Homo sapiens: one gene and its partners. The protein of the gene in region 1 interacts with the protein of each later gene in a pairwise test. Each region holds a gene or a part of one and is shown on either strand. Other genes may lie near its edges.

Region 1 (3,500 bases):
GGAATCCACAGGAAATTGGGTCGTGATTGGTGATGTTTTGCTCTTGTAAATACCAAGAATTCTCCAGTGCCTTTTGATTTTCCTCATTTAAATTTCCCTCCTGATGGCGGCCACTTTCTGTTCCCCCCAGCCCTGCAGCCTAACTGTTGAGAGTGTCAGGTGGTTTTCTGCTCCTGACTGTGGCCTGGGCTGGAGTTCAGATGTCACACGGCTCTGGGGCCAGGTCTCAAACACAGCAGGTTCAAAAGGTTAGAGGACCACCCCAGCTCCACCTCTGGTCATCTGTGTGGCTTGTGGCTCTCTTGTTTTTGGAACCCGCTGATAGGAAGGAGACTCACCTTGTTGCTCCAAGGTTTCTCTGGCCCCGGGGAGACAGCTCCATCCCCATCTCCTTTGATTTCTTTGGCACTCAGCTGTCTCTCCATAGTACACAGTCTGGATACATTTTGTGTGTCTTGGGTTGCGAGGGAAACATTTCTTGTATACTGGCAAGCGTGGCCGACATCGTGAGAGCAAATCCTGTCATCTGGCTCTGCCTCTGCGTACCTGGGCCTGAGGCCCAAGGATGAGGCTGGGCCTTGCTGTGGCTGCAGCCTGTCCAAGGCTTGTAGAACCAGGATCTGTTAGGGTCAACCTCAAAGCTGCCCTTTTCTTTCTGCTGAGGTTAGGTTCTGACAGGGAGACAACAGCAAATACAAGAGAAGATTGAGCAGAACCGACGGGCACAAGAGGAATCCCTGAAACACAGGGAGCAACTTATTCGAAATCTTGAGGAGGTGAGAGAGTTGGCTCGTCGCGAGAAAGAGGAGAGTGAAAAGCTGAAATCGGCCAGGAAGCAGGAGCTGGAAGCCCAGGTAGGGCTGAGCCCAAGGGCGGGAGGCACCGGGCCTGCCAGGTTCTCTGCATCATCATGGGACAGGGTTCAGAGCCGCTGGACTGCCTGGCAGGGCTTGCGCACGTTTGAGAGCACGGTGCTCCCGTTTCCATCCCAGCTGCAGTCCTCATCCTCTTGACTGTGGCTTCTTTCCCTCCACATCCTCCATGTCGTGTGGGTGAGGCCGGTACTGCTGTCTGTTCTCTTTACTCTGTCTGCTTCTGCAAGCAGTTGGCTTACCGGGGGCCATAGATCTCTCTTCATTTCAGTCCCTGATACATAAGACAGAACAGTCCTCCAAACACCTGGCCACAGGCCGAGCTTTTCACGAGGTACACGCCACGCATATGTATAGCCTCTCCAGCTTTCCATGAGGTACACGCCACGCATACAGCCTCTCCAGCTTTCTACGAGGTACATGCCATGCATACAGCCTCTCCAGCTTTCTACCAGGTACACACAATGCATACAGCCTCTCCAGCTTTCCACGAGGTACACGCCACGCATACAGCCTCTCCAGCTTTCCACGAGGTAAGCGCCACGCATACAGCCTCTCCAGCTTTCTATGAGGTACACACCATGCATACAGCCTTTCAAGTCCCGCATGCTCCCTTCCGTTCCTTGGCACGTGCATTGCTGTTGCTCAGCTGGATTCTCCAGTCTGGGTAGGGCCGCAGGCTTACCTTCCTCATCAGAGGCAGGGCTCTGCCCTGTGGGCCTTGTCTTGGGGTGGTGACTTTGCTCTTGGCACTCAGGTTGCAGAGCGCCGGCTGCAGGCATGGGAAGCAGACCAGCAGGAGGAGGAGGAAGAGGAGGAGGCCCGGCGGGTCGAGCAGCTCTCAGATGCCCTGCTGCAGCAGGAGGCGGAGACTATGGCTGAGCAGGGCTACCGGCCTAAGGTAGGAAGTCTGCCAGGATATAGGCCAACACCGGCAAGACAGACTCTGCCCGGCCCCTGCTCCCCTGGGCCTGCTCATCGCCCCGCGCCGGGGTCTGCTCTCCGGCCGTCCGGGTTATTCCTTGTTTCTCTTCTCTTGTATTTCTCTCTTCCCTGACCAGCAGGGAGCCCTGACACAGGGGCTGTTCCAGTCCTTGGTTGGGCCTCAAACCTTGAAGTGATTTTGCTCTGGCCTTGCCTACTAAGCTGCATGCCTGTCCACCCTCTTTGGTCAATCTAAGAAGAGCTGTGGCCACAGCTGCTGAGAGGGGTCAGAGCAGTAGATCTAGGCCTCAACTGTTGAGACAGTGAAGCCCGATGAACAAGAGACCAGTCCTCCTCCTCACCTCCCCTCCCTCCCTCCTGTGGGTGTCCTCTTCCTCCCCTCCCTCCCGTGTGTGTATCTGTTTCTCTGCCTCTCAGTGTCTTTGTTCCCGGACCTGTCTGCACAGCACCATGGGGAGCACAGAGAAGCAAATGCTGCCTTCCCTGCCCTGAGGAAGCTGATGACTGAAGCACCTCCACTGCTGGCTTGTCCCCTCTGCCCTCCTTTACCTAGGGCCACCCTGGCCACCCGGTGCCTAGAGTGCATTCCCCAGGACACATGCTGCAGAATGAGGGCTGGCTCCCTTGTGGTCAGATGACACTGGGAAACTGAGTGAAACATAATTAGAGCAGGTGCTGCGTTTGCCATAGGCCACTCGCCCTCAAACACTGACTGTCACAGTCACAGGGAACAGCATTTCCTAAACCCACTTGGCCGTGGATCAGTGAGAGTGTCAGGGTCAGGGTTTCACAGATCATATGTGAAAGTGTTTCTTAGGGCTAGTACTCAAAACCAAAAAGATATCAAGTGCCTCATTTATGGCTTAGGGTCAGATTTTTTCAGCTGGAAATGAAACAGCCATTTATATTGTTCTTTTAGCTTGTAGTTAAAACAAGGTTAATTCCTCATGCTGCAGATACTGCTGATCTGATCACTCTTATGTTTTCTTTCTTTTCTCAGCCTTACGGACATCCAAAAATTGCTTGGAACTGACTTCATGGGTACCATAAGTACAGAGAACAAGGGATGCTGAGGCTTCTGATCCCAGCCGCCAGGCAGTTTTACAGGGCTCTGTTAACAGTAAGTGCCCGGGGCACTGTCAGATGGCTCAGCAGTGCCTGCTCAGGTTCATCATTGAAACATCCCAGTGTTTGGCCAGACATTAAGGTGTCGTGAGAGTCCCTTTCATGCCTTTCTTACCCAAGCAAGGGTCTTTGATGGGCACGTGTTTACAGCGCTGCTGCATAGTCTTGTAATATATTAACAGTCACATCAACTGAAGGTCAATACTAAGAGCCACAGGTTGTACCTGTGATGGGGCGTGTGGTTTCCTGTTGTCTCACCTTTAATTGTCAACCTCCAGTGTTGACTCTAGAAATATGAGGAAAGCTTTTCAGTTTTTAAAATTGCCATTTAAATTTAGTCTATTAAAAACAAACCTAGAGGTCTTGGTGCAGTTGATTTCAGAGTTTATTAATTTAGTGGTCCCAAAAGTATTACATCTTTTATATTCTGGAAGAAAAGAACTGTGAACAAATTAGAACCCCGGAACACTCTGACGTCCATGGACGCATTCCAGAAAAGTGGCAAGAGATGAGTCTTTCCTCCTCCAGGAAGCATTTTGGTAGAATTTCCATAGAGCA
Region 2 (3,500 bases), on another chromosome or scaffold:
TGAGCTGATTCGTTTTGGCTGCTAGAAGACCAGTGATTTCTTGATCATACATATGGTCACCCTAATGATAGGGACATAAACAGCACTGTTTTCCCAAGACCACTCCATTTTCCTGGTAACTTCTTATCCAGCATCCACAAGGCTATATGGGGAACATCCATATTCTTATAGGACTATGCTCCCCTGCCACAGAGATGGATATTTGACACAAACTAAGCCAGTCAGAATCCTTCTCCAAGATTCTTTTCTTAACTGAAACTAAAACAAGGCATCCATTCCTCTTAGATGGTAGAAGCCACAACATTCTAAGCCTCAGAAGCCGTTAAGGCCCATGTTCCCTACCCATGTGCAGCAAAGCAGCCCATAGTGAAAGAGCGAAACTAATAACCAGGGAGCAGCAGAGGGGAGAGCCCTGGTAGCATCTGATTCTCTTGCTCCCAAAGTCTGAAAGGCCCAGTGATACCAGAGTCCTTCACAGTTTATGTGTTAAACCCTTCCTTCAACCCAGAATCCTTCTAGCAAACTTCCCTTTGCACATGATAGTTTACATTGCGAGTCTGCAGCCATAAGAAGGCCAAGGGAAAGCACATGAGTGGACTCATCTCTGAGCAATGGGCGAGGGAGTGGTACTTTGCAGGGGACTACCTATGCTATGGTGAGGGATGATAAGCCTATAGAAATAGGAATTACTAAAGTTATTCTGGCAGTGGTCACACAAGCTGATGATGTCTGGAGATAGTAAAATAACATGAGTGTGGCTCTCTGGAGCCATAAAATAGAGACCAATCCTTCCTATGGACTTTGAAGCACTTTAATGTAGCTATCAGGTCACTTTGATTAAAAATACTTTAAATTCCTTTATTTTGATCACTGCCTTCTTGATATGTTCCTGTATTTTCTCTTTCAGTTTAGATCCGTGAATCTTTTTCAAAATTTCTTTAATTTTTAATTTTTACTGATATAAATAGCTGTACATATTTACGATGTACATGTGATATTTTGATACAAGCATACAATATGTAATGATCAAATCAGGATATTTGAGATATCCATCACCTTAAACATTATTTCTTTGTGAATCTTAAAGAGAAAGGGGCTGCTTGTGTATGTGTGCATACAGGCATATCCCTGTGCTCACACTACACTCAGACTAAGACCGCATCAGCATCTGTATTTTTTAAAACTATGTATAGGGCTTTTATCCTTTTAAAAAAAATCTCACTTTTTGATTTAATTCACCATTCACACTTTTTAAATATTGCTTTAATAAATGATTCTCTCATCTAAGCATCAATAAACATAATGAACATTGTCTATAAAACCTGCTTCTTTTTTCAGCTTTAATTATGGAATAAAAAGGGGGAGAAACATTTGATTAAGAGATAGTAGCTATAAACTCAGTCATCTAGAATATTGGTCTATATGACTCATAGCTTTTGGATGCAGGAAATATGGGTCAAACTAGAGACCTGACATGATTGTATCATGTCAGCTTGGACAACATGGCAAAACCCCATCTCTACTAAAAATACAAAAAATTAGCCAAGCATGGTTGTGCGTGCCTGTAATCCCAGCTACTCGGGAGGCTGAGGCTCGAGAATTGCTTGAACCCGGGAGGTGGAGGTTGCAGTGAGCCGAGATCACGCCACTGCACTCCAGCCTGGGTGACAGAGTGAGACTCTGTCTCAAAAAAAAAAAAAAAAAAAAAAGAAAGAAAGAAAAAAGTTACTGCATAGTTTATTTTAATGAAAGTCCATGTATGAACATATTTTAAAATGTAAATTCTTGTTGTTAATACATTAACATAAAGACATATACTACTGCCTCCGAGATTGGAATACCCTCAATATTCAACATCAGCTACTGTAACTAGGAACAGCTAACTCCTGACTAAAATGTTGAGGGTATCACTATTAGAGAACCCTACTGCTCACAGAGAAGTTTCACAAACATGATTGTATTTGATTGTATAAGAATCCAGTGAGACGGCCAGGGGCGCTGGCTCATGCCTGTAATCCCAGCACTTTGGGAGGCCAAGGTGGGTGGATCACCTGAGGTCAGGAGTTCGAGACCAACCTGACCAACATGGAGAAACCCTGTCTCTACCAAAAATACAAAATCAGCCGGGCGTGGTGGTGCGTGCCTGTAATTCCAGCTACTCGGGAGGCTGAGGCAGGAGAATCACTTGAACCTGGGAGGCCGAGGTTGCAGTGAACCGAGATTGTGCCATTGCACTTCAGCCTGGGCAACAAGAATGAGACTCCGTCTCAAAAAAAAAAAAAAAAAAAGGAACCAGTGAGACATTGCTAATAGTATTATACTGCTAGCTCTAGTTTTGAAACAGGTAAACTGAGACTGAAAAAGGTTATGAGACTTGTTTAGCTTACACAGCTAGTATGTGGCATGTCTTCAGACTACAAATCCCATGGTCCTTCTGCTAACAGCTGAAATAAACAGTTTGAAGATTCTAGAGAGTTTTAAATAAAACTGACATTTATAAAACTTCAAATTACCTTGCCTAATTGTTCTTGAGCTCTCTGTAGTTCTTGTATTCTCTGCCTCTCCTTTTCTTGCATTTCCAACTCTAGCTGCAATGCCAGCTGTTGCTGAATATTCAGAAATATGTCATATTACAGTTAGATTAATTGCAAGATAATTAAGTTTATACCCACCTTCATTTCAGAAACTTACAATACATGGTCACATCCAACTAATACTTTAGTTTCTACAAATGCTTCCTGAAGCATAAAATTTTTAAAAAAGATTTTAATCTTCCTTAATTGCAAATTATAGAAAGCACAATTTGTACAAAATTATTTTCCCTTTTCTTCTTAAAGTAACAAATGAGATTGCAACAATTTTCCAGATAAATTTCTTTAAGCATAGATGGGTCTTCAAATAGCCACACACTGGTTGTGGAAGAGTGGGTGAGAAACTCTTCAGAATATCATCTGATGGCTCATGCCTGTAATCCCAGCACTTTGAGAAGCCAAGGTAGGCAGATCATCTGAGGTCAGGAGTTTGAGACCAGACTGGCCAACATGGTGAAACCCTGTCTCTACTAAAAATACAAAAATTAGCTGGGCAGGGTGGCACATGCCTGTAATCTCAGCTACTCGGGAGGCTGAGGCAGGAGAATCGCTTGAACCTGGGAGGTGGAGGTTGCAGTGAGCCGAGATTGTGCCATTGCATTCCAGCCTAGGCAACAGAGTAAGACTCCCTCTCAAAAAAAAAAAAAAAAAAGAAAAGAAGAAAAAAGAATATCATCTGAAATCATTACTAACCAACAATATATTTGCTCCCAACTCAGCATATCTGTCACACTAGAATAGGGTTCAGCAATAAAGCCTGTGGGCCAAAGCCAACCCACCTCCTGTTTTTTATAGCTTACAAAGAAAGAATGGCTTTTACATTTTTAAATAGAAAAAATTTAAAAGAAATAATATTTCATGACATAGGAAAACGGTATGAAATGTAAATTTCAGCATCCTTAAAGCTTT
Region 3 (3,500 bases), on another chromosome or scaffold:
AATCACCAATCTTGAGAACTGGTCTTTATATCTACAATTTCTTTTATTTGAAATCTTTTTTTTTTTTTTTTAAGGATAGACTGTTCCCTGTCAAAATCTTTTCTTCTCTGGGAGCCACAAAATGAATTTCTAAGAGGAAGTGTCAAGGTCACCTGAGTTTTTCCCCTCTGCTTGCTTGGCATTCATAACTGAGAAAACCCATCCCTGAAGCTTTACTGTAGCTGATTTGTAGCAGAGCCCATCCTGGGCTACTAGTTTCAGAGTGGGAACATGGGGCCATATGTCCTTTTTAAAAAAGTATTATTTGTATAATGTGCTACAACTTTATAAATTCACCCAGAAACTTACATGCCCACTAAATCCAATGAGGTAGGTTTTATTATCTTCAATTTTTAGATTAGGAGACAGGCTCAGAGAGTCTAAATGATTTGCCTAAGAGCACTAGGAAATAGTGGCTAGAATAAAACTCAATTCTTCCAACTCCAAATCTAGTACTCTTTCTGTTCTTTCTACTGATTAATATTTTTATCATTCCATTTTGAAATAATTTCAGACTTATAGAAAAGTTTAAAAAAATACTTTCCACAAGCCCTTTACCTATATTTGCCAAATGTTAATATTTTACCATGTTAATCATCCTTTCTTCTGTCTTTCTGTACATATGAATTTAATTATTTATAATATTTAACAGTATGTTATAGATGTAATTCCCCTTTATCTCTCAATACTTCAGTGTATATTTCCTAAAAACACTGATATTATCTACAGTCACCACAGAAAGTGATTGCGAATCAAGAAGTTAACATTAATACGATACTATTATCAAGGTACAGACCTTCATTTTTTACCCACAAATGTCTTCTGTGGCAAAAGAAGAAAAATAGTTTCTGGTTCAGGATCCAGTCAGGGATCACATATTGCATTTGGTTCTCACGTCTGTTTACTATCTTAGTTTTCAAAGTTTTCTTAGTCTGCCTCTGCTGTTCATGACTTGAATAATTATGTATGCTATCATCTGATAAGCTGGAATTGACAGTTCTGGCTGTCAGCACTTGATGGAGTTATTCAGAGATACTTGGGTTCAGTGACATACAGCAGGATGGGCCATAACATTAGGAGAATATTTGGAAACCAATAATAGTGATATTTATTATGCAATATTTATGCTGGACACTATTTTAAATGTCTTCCATATAATTCCTCATTTAAACTTCACAACAAACCTACATAGTAGGTATTGTTACATTATAGATGTGGAATCTGAGGAACAAAGAAGTTAAGTAACTTGCTCAAGGTTACCTGGCCAGGAGATGGCAGGGCTAGGAGTCAAATTCCAACAGCCAGGCTACATCCCTAGTGTGAGCTCTGAACCAGCACAGGCTGAACCAGAGACATTTAACAAAGTGATATGTCTTTAGGCAAATTATTAGCTCAAAAAACTTGAGTCTCATGAACTGAAAATGGGACTAATAATACCAATGTCATAAAGGTGGTTGTAAGGATTACACACAATAATCTGTTAAAGCATTTGGTATGTAGCAAGAACTTCATTTTTTAAGAGTAAAATTTAAAATATAAATATGGAAAAATTGACCGATAAGCATATCTGAAGAAGATACTGTTATGACTAAGAAGATACTGTTATGACTAAGAAGTTACTGTTATGACTAAGTTCACACTGAGATGAGAAAACTCTCAGAGAATACCTTTTTAATCATTACAGGTAGGGAGGAGAAGGGAACAGAAGCAACAAACATCTGTTCATATTTTGAGAGACTGGGGAGATACCAGTTACAACCAAAACCATCTTCGAGGCAAAAGGGGCTAGATAATGATGAGTCATGAAACACAATTTTATGATGAATTTATGGAAAGTTGTAGCCTTTAGTTATATTAGCAAAGAAGGTAAATATTTTCCATAAAGAGAAAAGTCAGCACCACTCTACTCTGGGCTGAGATATAATTACCTTCCAGCTTTTAAAAGGGAATTTTCTCCTTAGTGGGTGGCAGTCAGAGGAATCAAGAGGTTTTTATCTTTTGAGTTTTTAATTTCATATATACATATCTATATATATTTTAGAGAGTGGGTCTTGCTCTGTCACCCAGGCTGGAGTGCACTGGCATGATCTTAGCTCATTACATCCTCGACTTCCCAGGCTCAAGTGATCCCCTCACCTCAGCCTCCCAAGCGGCTGGGACTACAGGTGTGCACCACCACACCCAGCTAATTTTTTTTGTTGTTAATTTTTTTGTAGAGACAGAGTCTTTCTATGTTGCCCAGGCTAGTTTCGAACTCCTGGGCTCAAGTGATCCTCCTGCCTTGGCCTCCCAAAATGCTGGGATTACAGGTGTGAGCCACTGCACCTGGCCTTGAGGTTTTTAAAAGAGAACTCTGAAGACATTGGGTTTCCAGAATTAGAAAAATGTATAGTCATTTTAATGTGACATTTTCATTTAGTCTTTTTTTTATTTTTATTTATTTATTTTTTTGAGGAGTCTCGCCCTGTCACCCAGGTTGGAGTGCAGTGGCACAATCTCAGCTCACTGCAACCTCCACCCCCGGGGTTCAAGCAATTCTCCTGCCTCAGCCTCCCTAGTAGCTGGGATTACAAGCATGCAGTACCACGCACAGCTAATTTTTGTATTTTTAGTAGAAACGAGGTTTCGCCATGTTGGCCAGGCTGGTCTCAAACTCCTGACCTCAGGTGATCCACCCGCCTAGGCCTCCCAAAGTGCTGGGATTACAGGCATGAGCCACTGCACCCGGCTCATTTAGTCTTAAAACATTTCAAATATGTCAACTAAACCTACGGAGAAGATAAGCATATCTGAAGAAGACACTGTTATGATTAAGTTCAACTTAATTTTTTAATTAGACCATAAATAGATTTGTGGGGGGTACATCTGCAGCCCAAGGGCTTTTGGGGTTCTATAGCTACAACAATAGGCAAGGATGGATTTTTCATCTCCTTTCTATCAAGGTTTGAATGTTTCCTCTGAGTCTTTCCACCCAGAGAACCCTAGACTTCTTTCAGTTACCACTCCTTTCCTCACTATTGACCACTTCTGAGCCCCATATTTTGGGAGCTGAAAAGTAAGTAGTGCCTTGGAGAGGGAAGACAAAAAGGGAAAGGGAGCCCAGCAAAGGTTCATTCAAGGCTCACATGTGCATCCCCTACTGGTAGCTGCCTCTTGCCATCCCCACAGCATAAGCCCTCCCCTCCTCACCCCTGCCCAAGGCTGCAGAGCGCCATCACAGGGCCTCTGTTCCATGCCCGCTGAGTCTGCCAGCTCACACCTTCCATAATCTGCCTCACCCTGCACCTTCCCCAACCCGCCCAACTCTCAACCATCGATCTGTTCATTGCTTATTTTAAAAGCAGCCTTTTCAACCACATTTTTCATTCAGTCATTAGGACAACCATGCTAAAGCAACCCTACAGTAGACGCCCTTGGCTTTAAGCAGAACTGGTGCAGAATAAAAATGTCAGGCCTTTTTT
Region 4 (3,500 bases), on another chromosome or scaffold:
TTAACTGATACGGCTGTATTTGTAAAATTATGAAGTAAAAATATTATGTACCTTACATCTTATTTAAAGGGCCAAGAAGAAAGGCTGTGGTGAAACATCAGTGGTACCTCAGTCCTTTTCATTTCTTTAGTTTTTTTCAGAGGTGATTCAATCTTTTGATTTACCTGGTAACTCAACATATAAAGACCTCTGACTATAAAATGTACATCTAGGCCGGGTGCAGTGGATCACGCCTATAATCCCAGCACTTTGGGAGGCTGAGGCTGGTGGATCACCTGAGGTCAGGAGTTCGAGACCAGCCTGATCAACATGGCAAAACCCCATCTCTACTGAAAATACAAAAATTAGCTGGGTGTGGTGGCACATGCCTGTAATCCCAGCTACTTGGAAGACTAAGGCAGGAGAATCACTTGAACCTGGGAGGCGGAGGTTGCGGTGAGCCGAGATAGCGCCATTGCACTACAGCCTGGGCAAGAAGAGCAAAACTCTACCTCAAAAAAAAAATTAAAATAAAATGTACATCTAAAGGAACAAATTGTCAAGCCAAAGAGCTCGTCTTCATTTCAGATATATTATACTTACTAAAATTTTTCTGAGACTTAGATATTAATTTAGTATCTATCTGCTATGCTATGCTATCTGCTATCTGCTATGGGAAATAAGCTAGTCTTTGAAAGTTATCAATGAGCAACTCCCATTGTGAGTTATTTTTAATTTCTGCTACAACTTGTTTCTTCTTTTGCCTGGTGCACGTGACACCATCTTACTCTAATCTGACAATGTCTGCCTCCCTGCCACAATGCTGCATGTGCTGCTGTATTTCCCATTTGGATACTCTCCTGTCAGGAATCAGGACCTGACAGTTGTCTGTGGGACAGTCATATGCATATGAAGGTCAAAGCTGAGTGATCATGGCACCTCTTATTCTCATACATTGAGATTAGCACAAAAATAGCCCTTTAGTGTAACATTTTGTAGTGTGATACATAAAAGAGGTTGCAAGTGAAGCATCTGGAGTTCCTCAAAAATTGCATTGCTGTCATTTGTATATTACCTACAACAGATGTGGAGAGCTTTGAATATCCAGGGCCAAATTGCAACTCTTAATCCTGTTTTGTTTGTTGTTGTTTGTTTTTGTTGTTGTTGGGTTATTTTGGGAGATGGTTGTTGTTTGGTTTTTGGTTTTTTATTTTGTTTTGTTTTGTAGCAACGAAGTAAACGAGGAGGTTGGTCCAAAGGAAGAAAGAGGAAGAAACCTCTTCGAGACAGCAATGCACCCAAATCCCCCCTTACAGGATATGTTCGGTTCATGAATGAGCGTCGAGAACAACTTCGAGCAAAGAGACCAGAAGTCCCATTTCCAGAAATCACAAGGATGTTAGGCAATGAATGGAGTAAACTGCCTCCTGAGGAAAAACAGGTAATTGTTCCTATTCCTGACTCTTTGTTTGGTTTTGATTATATCTCAGAAATAACTTATATAAGAAAAGCAAAGAGGATGGACAGTTGATTCTGCAGTTTTGTCACAGTGCCTAGGAGACCAGAATAGCAGGGTCCATCATAGCAATTTTCTCTAGCCTAGTGATTTTTAAACTATTTGCTAGAGGGGTGTGAGCAGGGAAGGAGTCTAGGACTCCCCTCAACCAAAGCAACACCACTTTTTATACGCTGAGTTCACATAAGATTGTTTTAAGTGGTTCAGTATTAAGAAATCTGTCAATAAAATGTATTCCACTGAGTTAAATGAAAAGTCGTGAATTAAATGAGAAAAAGTCACTTGACACAATTCTGCAGTTCACATAAGATTTTTAAGAAAAAATGTTACTGCTTTAATACTTTTTTTAACTAGAGTTCTGGCAAATTAACCTACTATTGAAAATAAAGCAAGAACAACTTGAATTCTTTCTCCTCTAAGACAGAAACTAACCTGATGGGCAAACTGAAATGAATCCGTTCATTAGAGAGATTTGAAAGGAATTAAGGACAAGATAGCCATGAGCTGGTTGAAGTACCACTAAAGCTGAGCAGTGGTCATGGTTGTGGGAGCTGCTTTGGGTTAAAAGTTCCCAGCATTCCCAGCATCTGAAAGATATCTGTATTTCTTTTACGTCTTAAACTCTTTTATGACTTACACTTTTTAAAAAGGATTCCAGACACACTAAAACCAAATGGAGAAATACTCTCCTGGGAATTAATTGAATTCAGAAATTTTCAAAGAGATCAGATTCAGTTGCAACTTTTGAAGCTCTGTGTTTGTGGTAGCAAGCTAGTAGAAAGCAGTGAATATCATCCATTGTTTTGGCGCTACTGTATAAAAGGATAGTGGGCTGTACATACTATGCTATTCTTTTCTTTTTTTTCTTTATTTTAAAATTAATATGTGCTCATTATTCTCTTTTCAGAGAATACAGAAATGTATAAACAAAAATGTAAAAATAACAGTGCTTATTTCTTGGGATAACCACTATTACGTAGGACAAAGGTTTTGTGTTTGTTTTTGTTTTTTTAACTTTTTTTGGAAATAATTTCAAATACACAAAAAGTTACAAACATAAAAATAATACAAAGAACATCCCAACACTCTTTACCCAGATTCACCTATTGTTAACACATTTTATTCCATTTCTCCATTTGCATATGCACTTATATGCTCAGTCTTTCTTATACTTTTGCATGCTCAGTCTTTCTCTCTCTCTCTCTCTCTCTCTGTCACACACACACACACACACACACACACACTTGCATGTGTACACCCAGACACACACAAAATTTTGTTTTAATCATGTGAGGATAAATTATATACATTGTAGCCCTTTACCCCCAGGATATTTCAGTGTGTATGTCAAAGAATATTTTCTTATATAACCATAGTGTAGTCATCAATTTCATAATTTTTCATTAACAGTGCTTTAATCTGTCATCTATATGTTGACTGAATGTCATTTCTTTATAACATTTTTCCCTTCCAAAACAGGTTCCAGTCTAGGGTCAGGTTTTGTGTTTAGTAGTCAAGTTTCTTTAGCTTAAACTGGGATATTTCCATAATCTTTCTTTTTCTTTTATAACATTGATATTTTTTTAAAATACAGTTCCCTTCTGCTTCCCCCGCTGCTTTTACCTTTAACAGAACATTGCTCATTGTGTATTTTTCAGATGTTTCCTTGTGATTAGATTGAGGTTGCGCATTCTTGGTGGGATTACTTGCATAGGTGGTGGTGTGTTCTCAATATGTCACATATGCAGGCACACAATGTCCTTTTGTTTCTCACTAGTAATGTTAATTTTGCTTACCTGGTACATTATTTAAATTCTCCTTTGTCATTAATAAGTAATCTATGGGGAGACGATTTAAGAACATACAAACAGCCTGTTTTACATCAACATTTTCCCCTAGATTTAGCATCCATTGATTATTTTTGCCTGATTTAATCTTTATCATTATGGTTACAACGTGATGATTTTTCCAACTCCAGCACTCCCTTTACATTTACCAGGTAGCC
Region 5 (2,324 bases), on another chromosome or scaffold:
TTTTGATGGAGATTCCAGGTGAATGAATGAGCATTTCAGGCAGCTGCGTATAACCGAGCCCTAGCTCACATGACTCAGGAACCATCCCTTCATTCAGCACAGTTTCTTGGTCCTCCAAGTTTGCTTTTGAGGGACAGAAAATCAGGTCGGGAGGCCACTGACCATGGTGGCAGTTGCTCCTGTAGTCAAGACTAGCTCCTTGGCCAATGCACACACATGCTCTGAAGCTTAGGCCTTTGTTTCTAGTCAAAAGGTGGGCTGCTCTTGGGCTACAGCATGACAGAGACATGCCGAAGCCCTTTTCCTTTCAGATACGGCGTGGAGATCAGCTCCTCCACCAGCATAATGGGACCCAGCATCCCTGCCAAAACTCGGGAGGTGCTCGTCAGCCACCTGGCATCTTACAACACATGGGCTTTACAAGGCATGTATGGAGTTTCTTGTGGGCTTGGCAGGTGGCTGTGAAGGCCATCAGTGTCTGAAGCCTGTACTTGCCCCTCCCCAGGTCCTGTGAGTGGAGAGGCACAGAGTGTTCTGGGCTAGCTGAGTGTGGAGGCTGGGTGGCTCTGATGCTAGCCAATCACTCTACGCTCTAGGCTCACACCTTTCCACCTTCGACTTCGCCAGCAGAAGTCTTGAGTTCAATCTCATTGCCCTGGCTTGGGTCACATGTCCATCCATGAACCAATCACTAGACTGGGTGCGGAAAGCTCTGATTTGCCAAGTTCGGGTCATGTGTCTCACTAGGTAAGAGCAGAGGAGGATCACCCCCAGGGAAGACCAGAGTGCTCTTTCAGAAGAGTGGGACAATCGCTGGATGGCTCTTTGCACCACTCACTCCTGTTCTCTGCTAGGGCTGCTGGGACTCACAAGGGGTAGGTTGTGGCAGCTGCCCTGTTTTGGGTTCTGACTTGGCTTGTGTCCCTGCAGGGATTGAGTTTGTAGCTGCCCAGCTCAAGTCCATGGTGCTAACCTTGGGCCTGATTGACCTGCGCCTGACAGTGGAGCAGGCCGTGCTGCTGTCACGCCTGGAGGAGGAGTACCAGGTGAGGAGCAGCACCTCAGGTCCCGCCTCCCCCTTCCTAGTTCAGACTCACTTTGGGGGAGCAGCTAACCCATCTGAAATATAGTTATGCATACTTGGCTTTTATTACTTTTATGTACACGCAGAAATCAAAATCAAGGACCAGCAGAAGTATTGTCAAGTAGGCCTGGCATGGTGGTTCACACCTGTAATCCCAGCACTTTGGGTGGCTGAGGAGGATGGATCATTTGAGGTCAGGAGTTTGAGACCAGCCTGGGCAACATGGCAAAACCCTCTCTCTACAAAAATACAAAAATTAGCACCTGTAGTCTCAGCTACTTGGGAAGCTGACGTGGGAGGATTGCTTGAACCTGGGAGGTGGAGGTTGTAGTGAGCCAGGATTGTGCCACTGCATTCTAGCCTGGGTGACAGAGTGAGACCCTGTCTCAAAAAAAAAAAAAAAAAAGGTAAGATAATAACAATAAAAAAATAACAGTAAGTGCTACCGCTGTGTTCCTGCATTGTATCCATCTCACCTCCTCTCAGCAGCCTGGGCAGGTAGGAGCTGTGGTTATCTCTGTTTTACACAGAAGGAAATGGAGGTGCAAGGTTGCACCTCTGGAAAATGTGCCAGCTGGGGTTTGAAGCCAGGTCTGGTGATTTTAGGGCCAAGGCCGTCAGGCCTCACTCTGCACAAGGAGGTTCACGGGTGGATAAAGACCATCTGGGCTTGATAAAGCCTGCAGAACAGGCCCTGCCAAGATGACTGAGAACCCGTTTGTGCTCCTTCATCAGCTGAGCCTTCATACCCTGACATTTTATCTGGCTGGCAGAGGAGCATAGGGGTAGCTGCTGTTTGTATACAAGTTTTGATTTAGTGGGCTCAGAATTAAGGTTTTGCCACAGTATGGTTTGCATTTTTTAACTCTGAAAATTATAGCCATCTTTGCAGTCTTTTTATTGTTATTCCACCAACCTCAGAAGGTTAATTGCTATTATGAATTGGTCCCTAATATGGTAAAAACAAACAAACAAAAAAACACAAAACTTTTTGTGATGTATTTCCCTAGTTCTTGTAGTCTTCTGCTCAGAAAAATGCCAGGGAAAAAACTATTTTTGTATAACAAAGGAGGCCCGCTACTATTCTCTGGATGTCAGAACTGATTACATAGGAAGGGGGTGACTTGTAGGGCTGGTGGGAAGCCAGTCTGGGCTCTGCTTCTGACTATGGGACCCAAGCCAGGCCATCATTCTCTGAACTTTGGTTTCGATCCTCTACAAACAGAGGAATAACCTGAAT
Region 6 (3,500 bases), on another chromosome or scaffold:
CGTCATGGCAGGCACCTGTAATCCCAGCTACTCGGGAGGCTGAGGCAGGGAAGAATCGCTTGAACCAAGGAAATGGAGGCTGCAGTGAGCTGAGATGGTGCCACTGCACTCCAGCCCGGGCAACTGAGCGAGACTCCGTCTCAAAAAAAAAAAAAGATTTCAAAATCAGGATGCATCATGAAAAACTTGCCATTTCCTATACATCTGGTGCCCATTCCTAAGTGTACAATTAGCCAGTGATAATCACATCTCTATTTTATTTTTGAGACAGTCTTGCTCTGTCACCCAGGCTGGAGTGCAGTGGTGTGATAGCTCACTGCAACCTCTGCCTCCCAGGTTCAAGCAATTCTTGTGCCTCAGCCTCCCGAGTAGCTGGGACTACAGGCACCAGCCACCACACCCCACTAATTTTTGAATTTTTGTGGAGACGGGGTTTCACCATGTTGGCCAGGCTGGTCTCAAACTCCTGACCTCAGGTGATCCGCCCACCTCGGCCTCCCAAAGTGTTGGGATTACAGGTGTGAGCCACCACGCCCAGCCTACATCTCATTTTAAAACAGCGAACTTCCCTCCCAAAGTTTGAACTGACCTTCCTTCACAGAGGCTGTCCGTCGCCTTGTTCTTTTTCTCCCTTTGTGATCTTCTTCTAGTATCTTATCATCAAAGCCAGTCAGTTCGATGGTTTCAGACTGACTTGTGGGTCCAGCAGAGAACCACTCTGGTTCTTCTTCTGTGTAAGAATCATTTCTTCTACGCTCACCAAAGACACGCTTACTATCTCCAAACTCTCTCTGGAAAAGTACATAAAGCAAGATTAAAAAATTTCTAGTCAAGCCATTTCTACTTCAGTCAAGGTCTTCGTTGTAATGTTCAATAGTGAAAGGAAGATATGATGCTGTATACCTGAGGCCCATCACCACCCCCACCCCTTCCTCCCTGACTGGTTTAAGAGCAGGCTGTGTTCATGCCTGTTCTCAAAGTAACCTGGTATAAAAAAAGTGAATATCAAGTCCCCAAGCACATGAACTACCAAAGAATCTAGAAGACAAACCCAGGTCGGGTGTGGTGGCTCACGCCTGTAATCCCAGCACTTTGGGAGGCCGAGGCAGGCCGATCACCTAAGGTTGGGAGCTTGAGAGACCAGCCTGACTAACATGGAGAAACCCCGTCTCTACTAAAAATATAAAAAGTTAGCCGGGTATGGTGGTGCGTGCCTATAATCCCAGATACTGGGCTGAGGCAGCAGTGAGTCAAGATCGTGCCATTGCACTCCAGCCTGGGCAACAAGAGCGAAACTCCGTCTCAATTTAAAAAAAAAAAAAAAAAAAAAAGACAAACCCTGAAACGCTTGTCCTTGAAGTCCCTCTCTCGGTCTCTGTCTCTCAAGTCCCGCAGGTCCTTATCGCTAAGACGGTGATCCTTCTCAAAGGTCCGGGCAGAGATTATCCTCCCACTGCCAATCCTACGTCCACCAAGCAGACGAAGCCCATCACTATCTTTCTCTAATGGACTTCCTGAGCGCCGGGAGCTAACAGCGGCTGTCACGTGGCAGCCCCCTCCAAAGCTCCGTCTCTGAGGGCTGAGAACAACATCTAAGTCATCTTCTTTCACACGCTCTCGTGGATCTGGAAGGACGTGGGAAAGACAAAGTTAAACAAACCAACAAGGGTGTTTTCTTCTTTTTTAGATAGTATGTCCATGACTGATGGGAGGAAGGGGATGGTTGGAAGAGAGTCACCACTAAAATTGGGCTTATCAGCAGATTCAGGGTAACATGTACATTATGTATTTAAATAAGGCTGAGACATTGGCCTTCCTCTTTGCAGCAATAGAAGTACGTCACGATAAATAATTTTCCATGATTAGTCTTTGCAGTGCCTTTATTTTGACCAAATCCTTATCTAAGAATTATTAGCAAATGTTTTGTCAACTAATAAACTACAGCAGGCGTATTTGAAAAAATAACTGCTTAAAAAGTTAAAGTGTCTCTTCAACAAAATGGTGTTGAACGGTTAGATATCCACAGACAAAGAAATGAACTTAAATCTATATTTGGGGCCGGGCATGGTGGCTCACGCCTATAATCCAGTACTTTGGGACGTCAAGGCAGGTGGATCACGAGGTTAGGAGTTCAAGACCAGCCTGGCCAAGATGGTGAAACCCCGTCTCTACTAAAACTACAAAAATTAGCCAGGCATTGTGGCAGGTGCCTGTAATCCCAGTTACTTGGGAGGCTGAGGCAGGAGAATCGCTTGAACCTGGAGGCAGAGGTTGCAGTAGCAGAAGTCACCCCGCTACACTGTAGCCTGGGCAAAAGACTAAGATTCAGTCTCAAAAAAAAAAAAAAAAAAAAAAAAATATATATATATATATATATATATATAAACAGATATATACAAAAATTAATTCAAAATGGATCACAGATCTAAATGTAAAACCTAAAACTAAAAATTTCTAGAACAAAATATAGGAGGAAATCCTTGTGGCACTGGGTTAGGCAAAGTTTTCTTAGGCATGACACCAAAAGCATGATCCATTTAAAAAACACTGATAGACTGGGCTTGATCAAAATTTAAAACTTCTACTCTTTGAAAGACACTGTTTAGAGAATGCAAAGACAAGCCACAGACTGAGACAAAATATTTCAAAGCATTTTTCTGATAAAGGACTTAAATTCAGAACACATAAAATCTCTTAATAAACCAACCCAGTGGCTCACGCCTGTAATCCCAGCACTTTGGGAGGCTGAGGTAGGTGGATCACCTGAGGTTAGGAGTTCGAGACTAGCCTGACCAACATGGTGAAACCTCGTCTCTACTAAAAATACAAAATTAGCCAGGCGTGGTGGTAGGCACCTGTAATCCCAGCTACTTGGGAGGCTGAGGCAGGAGAATCGCTTAAACCTGGGAAGTGGAGGTTGCAGTGAGCTGAGACTGCACCACTGCACTGTAGCCTGGGCACCAAGAGCCAGACTCTGTCTCAAAAAAAAAAAAAAAAAACCAACACAATTGAAAAATAGACAAATGGTTTGAACAGACACTTCACCAAAGAGGTTATGTGGAAGGCAAATAAGCATATGAAAAGATACTCAACATAATTAGTCATTAGGGAAATGCAAATTAAACCATGTGATACTACTACACGCCTATTACAATGGCTAAAATTTAAATGACCATTCCAAGTGCAGATGAGGATGTTGGAGCAAGTGCAACTCTCATACACCACTGGTGGAAACGTAAAATGGTACAACTACTTTGGAAAACAGTTTGGCAATTTCCCAGAAGGTTAAACATACATCTGCTATACAACCCAGCCATTTTAATCCTAGGTTTTTACCCAAGAGAAAAGAAAGCTTATGTCCAGAGACTTGTACATGAATGTTCATTGCAGCTTTGGTTATTTAACAGTCAAAAACTGGAAACAACCCAAATGTACATCAACAGATAAACGGATCAACTGCTAAATCCATACAATGGAATACTATTAAGCAATGAAAATAA
Region 7 (3,500 bases), on another chromosome or scaffold:
TCTCCCTTAAATTTCCTGACAACACAGTCTCTCTTGGTTTTTTATAAACACATTCATTCATTCATTCACCATTAATTCATACAACAAATATTTACTGAGTACCTACTAAGTGCTCAGAGCCAAATACTAAAGATACAGTGGTAAACAAGGTAGACAAGGTGCATTAAACAAACTGAACACATCAAACAAATATTAACAATTGTGATAAGTCCTTCAGAGAAGTACAGAGGTTCTGGGAGTACTAAATAAGGGAGCTGATCAAGCCTGAGAGAGGGGTCAAGAGAAGACAGTTCCATTAGCACTTCAGTTAGGGCCTAAAGGAAGGAGTCAGCTAAGCCATGGGGTAGAGGTAAAGGCCAACAGTATGTGTAACATCTCTGTAGAGACAGAGAGAGGAAGATGAGTGGACAAAAGCAATAAGGAGGACTAACAATGAGGTAGGAAAAAACTAGACTGGAGTGTCACAGAAGTTAAGGTCTCCCACTGGCCAAATGCAACAACTGAAACATATTTATTAAAGCCCATGCATTCAAAATGGTAATTTTATAAAGTAAAGATCAAATTTTTTTTAAATCCTAACTCCTTGGATACCATTAGAAATAATGAGACCGCCAACTCCTTTTTACAAAAATTGTCCATTAAAAAGAAAAAAAATTATCTTGCCTTTACTATACAAACTGTACATCAGGGTGATCAAGCAGTCTTGGAGGATGAAGAAAAAGTTCCTTTTACAGAAGAAATTTCAGTGTGATAGGGAGGAAATTAGAAAATCACCATTTTGCAACTCCTAATAAGATAACTGATTGAGGCAATGATCATCAAGGAATGAAACCATTAGGTTAAAGTAGTAAGATAAAGATACGCTGTCACCATCTGAACCTACTGATCAATCTTAGCATCACCAAAAGTGAGATAGCCTCTCAACGTGACGTGATATGAAGCACACAGCACCACTTGCAAAATGTTCTTACCAAAAAAGCAAACGTCAAGTCCCTAAAGCAAACTTTATTTACCACAATTATGAGAGATAAAGTTAAATAATATTACAAGGAAGCAGAAGAAAAATACAGAATGGGGGGCATTTAACAAGACAACTGGAAAATTCATGAGGGAAAAAACAGAATGGGGAATTCTCTACACTAAAAAGAACTTAAGGGACATGACAAGAAAATGAATGTGTGGTCCTTGTTTGGATCATGATTCAAACAAACCAAATAAGAAAACGCTTTTGAGACAAATAGGGAACTCTGGTTATAGATGGGGTATTAGATAGTACCAAGGAATTATTGTGGGTTGGAATGAGGTACACATTTTTAAAGAGAGAAGTATAGTAAAGTAAGCATGAAATGACACGCTTGGGATTTGCTCTCAAATACATCAGTGATTTAAAAAAAGGAAAAAGGAGATGGACAATAACAAGTTCTGACTTTTGATGACTCCAGCTGGTAGGGTTCACATCACTTCTTTTTTTCTTTGTTAGCATTTTTCATAAAGAACAGTAAGTGTTCACTGGATTTACTGAGATGATTAATGACCTTAACTTATTTGATAAAATAAAGAAAACAGAAACCAGATTGGCGAATAGTTTGTAAAGGGGAGGAGAGTGGTAGCTGAAGTGAAATGTGGGATTAAAGTAGTTTTGTTGTTGTTGTTATTACTGTTTCAAGAAAAAATAAACTTTGAGTTACTTAAATGTGGATGAGAAGGTGAAGACTGGGGAACGGAGTACAGCTAGAATAATCAACAGCACATGCGCCCTGAAAAGGCAGGAGGTTATAAGATCCTGAGTCAGGTAAAAAGAGGAAAAGGTGGATAGAGGGAGAAAAAAAATAGATTTGGTGGAGGGAAGTTGAAGGAATTGCAATAAGGGATTTTATTTTCTCTTTGGTTTTTTTTTTTTTTTTTTGAGACAGAGTCTTGCTCTGTCACCCAGGCTGGAGTCCAGTGGTGCGATCTCAGCTCACTGCAACCTCTGCCTATGGGGTTCAAGCAATTCTCATGTCTCAGCCTCCCGAGTAACTGGGACTACAGGTGTGCACTACCACGCCCATCTAATTTTTGTATTTTTAGTGGAGATGGGTTTCACCATGTTGGCCAGGCTGGTCTCTGACCTCAGGTGATCCGCCCACCTCAGCCTCCCAAAGTGCTGGGATTACAGATGTGAGCCACTGCGCTCAGCCCTTTTTTGTCTTGGAAGTAGCAGTCAAGGCCATCTGCTAAAAGTAAGAACAGATAAATTTGAGATTTGAAGAGAATAAAGGTTTAAAATTACTGCTATAGAAAGCAGGAGAATAAGTTGAAAGTAGAAATTTCACAGGATTACCAGGCAACATTGAGACCTGAGGTTGGTGATCAAGAATTTAGAGAGGTATTATCCCCTCTTCCATAATGTGTGATCTTTCTCAAGCAATATCTACACAGACAGTTGGGCTTACAAAGGCTTGGGGTTTTTTCAGGCAAATGTGACACAAAAACAAGGAAGTTTAGCATATTGGCAAGAGATATAGAAATGGAAGGCCATGGAATCTAAGCTAGTTAGAGTAGTGAAGACAGAAAGAGCTAACAGAGCAGAAAGTATCAGTTGTCGAAAGATCCAACAGTCTTCTGAAGGATCCTCGATAATCCATGCTTTGGCTTGGAAAGGACTTCTGGCGGTTGTCACAAAGTCAAATGTGACTTTTCCCCTTGATTCACAGGTATTGCCAACTGAGATAGGAATAGCTGTGATTAGTAAAAGGGAGCTAATAAGTATGAGGAATACATGGACGGGCATCTCTATACTGAGATAGGACAAGCAGTGGTCCTAACAATGCTGCTCGCTAATTTATGGTCAAAATCCTACTTGGCTTGGGGATAGGAGATGGCAGCATTTAAGTGTTAGTGTTTCTAAGAGTTTTGTTCTAGTACTCTCCTCTTACTCTGGAATCAGGTCTCCTAAATTACATCATCCATATCTACCACTTTAAATACTACTTACGTTCTGATGGCTTTCATAAATATATACAACTACCCAAGGGACACCTCAAACTCATTATCTACCCACAAACATCTGCTCTTGCTTTAGTATTCTGGATCTTAGTGAAGAGCAAGGGATCCTTCAGTTACGCCACCCAGAAGCCCAAGATACCTTTATCCAGTCATTCGCTTTTATTGATTCTACAAGTTAAATCTCTCTCAAATTCACATCCTGTTTTTTCTCTCCATTCTTAACTGTCACTGCCTTAATTCAGGTCTTCACTATATCTTGCTCAGATTTTGGCAACAGCTTCACCAGATCTCTGCCTCCATTCCAACCCACCTATAATCTATCTTTGTATTTCTCTAAGAGATACTTCTAAAAATCTGATTATTTTCCTGTCTACTTAATCCTACAACAGTTTAGAATTGCTTAAAGGACAGCTCCTTAGTAAAACATATAAGGCACGCTAATAATCCAATTCATATCTATCTCTCCAACTCTCACTACTGACCCTGAGGTCATTTATGCATTAAAAAAACTG

What was found.
Region 2: the proteins of TCHP (region 1) and DYDC1 interact in binary tests that used the Homo sapiens proteins (3 or more experiments, as listed by UniProt).
Region 3: the proteins of TCHP (region 1) and NME7 interact in binary tests that used the Homo sapiens proteins (3 or more experiments, as listed by UniProt).
Region 4: the proteins of TCHP (region 1) and HMG20A interact in binary tests that used the Homo sapiens proteins (3 or more experiments, as listed by UniProt).
Region 5: the proteins of TCHP (region 1) and ATPAF2 interact in binary tests that used the Homo sapiens proteins (3 or more experiments, as listed by UniProt).
Region 6: the proteins of TCHP (region 1) and EIF4ENIF1 interact in binary tests that used the Homo sapiens proteins (3 or more experiments, as listed by UniProt).
Region 7: the proteins of TCHP (region 1) and NUP54 interact in binary tests that used the Homo sapiens proteins (3 or more experiments, as listed by UniProt).

What each region holds. Positions count from the first base shown.
Region 1 is NC_000012.12:109,913,774-109,917,273, forward strand, and holds part of TCHP (trichoplein keratin filament-binding protein), read left to right. Parts: intron 1-668; coding exon 669-854; intron 855-1,629; coding exon 1,630-1,773; intron 1,774-2,817; coding exon 2,818-2,850; 3' UTR 2,851-3,500. UniProt on the Homo sapiens protein: Tumor suppressor which has the ability to inhibit cell growth and be pro-apoptotic during cell stress. Inhibits cell growth in bladder and prostate cancer cells by a down-regulation of HSPB1 by inhibiting its phosphorylation.
Region 2 is NC_000010.11:80,339,756-80,343,255, forward strand, and holds part of DYDC1 (DPY30 domain-containing protein 1), read right to left. Parts: intron 2,607-3,500; coding exon 2,514-2,606; intron 1-2,513. UniProt on the Homo sapiens protein: Functions as part of axonemal radial spoke complexes that play an important part in the motility of sperm and cilia. Plays a crucial role during acrosome biogenesis.
Region 3 is NC_000001.11:169,137,298-169,140,797, reverse strand, and holds part of NME7 (nucleoside diphosphate kinase homolog 7), read left to right. Parts: intron 1-3,500. UniProt on the Homo sapiens protein: Possesses an intrinsic kinase activity. Displays 3'-5' exonuclease activity with a preference for single-stranded DNA. Does not seem to have nucleoside diphosphate kinase activity.
Region 4 is NC_000015.10:77,465,888-77,469,387, forward strand, and holds part of HMG20A (high mobility group protein 20A), read left to right. Parts: intron 1-1,207; coding exon 1,208-1,420; intron 1,421-3,500. UniProt on the Homo sapiens protein: Plays a role in neuronal differentiation as chromatin-associated protein. Acts as inhibitor of HMG20B. Overcomes the repressive effects of the neuronal silencer REST and induces the activation of neuronal-specific genes.
Region 5 is NC_000017.11:18,019,845-18,022,168, reverse strand, and holds part of ATPAF2 (ATP synthase mitochondrial F1 complex assembly factor 2), read left to right. Parts: intron 1-311; coding exon 312-424; intron 425-505; exon of another isoform or gene 506-747; intron 748-930; coding exon 931-1,046; intron 1,047-1,170; coding exon of another isoform or gene 1,171-1,209; exon of another isoform or gene 1,210-1,529; intron 1,530-2,324. UniProt on the Homo sapiens protein: Plays a role in the assembly of the F1 component of the mitochondrial ATP synthase (ATPase).
Region 6 is NC_000022.11:31,462,343-31,465,842, forward strand, and holds part of EIF4ENIF1 (eukaryotic translation initiation factor 4E transporter), read right to left. Parts: intron 1,626-3,500; coding exon 1,339-1,625; intron 792-1,338; coding exon 590-791; intron 1-589. UniProt on the Homo sapiens protein: EIF4E-binding protein that regulates translation and stability of mRNAs in processing bodies (P-bodies). Plays a key role in P-bodies to coordinate the storage of translationally inactive mRNAs in the cytoplasm and prevent their degradation.
Region 7 is NC_000004.12:76,138,398-76,141,897, forward strand, and holds part of NUP54 (nucleoporin p54), read right to left. Parts: intron 1-3,500. UniProt on the Homo sapiens protein: Component of the nuclear pore complex, a complex required for the trafficking across the nuclear membrane.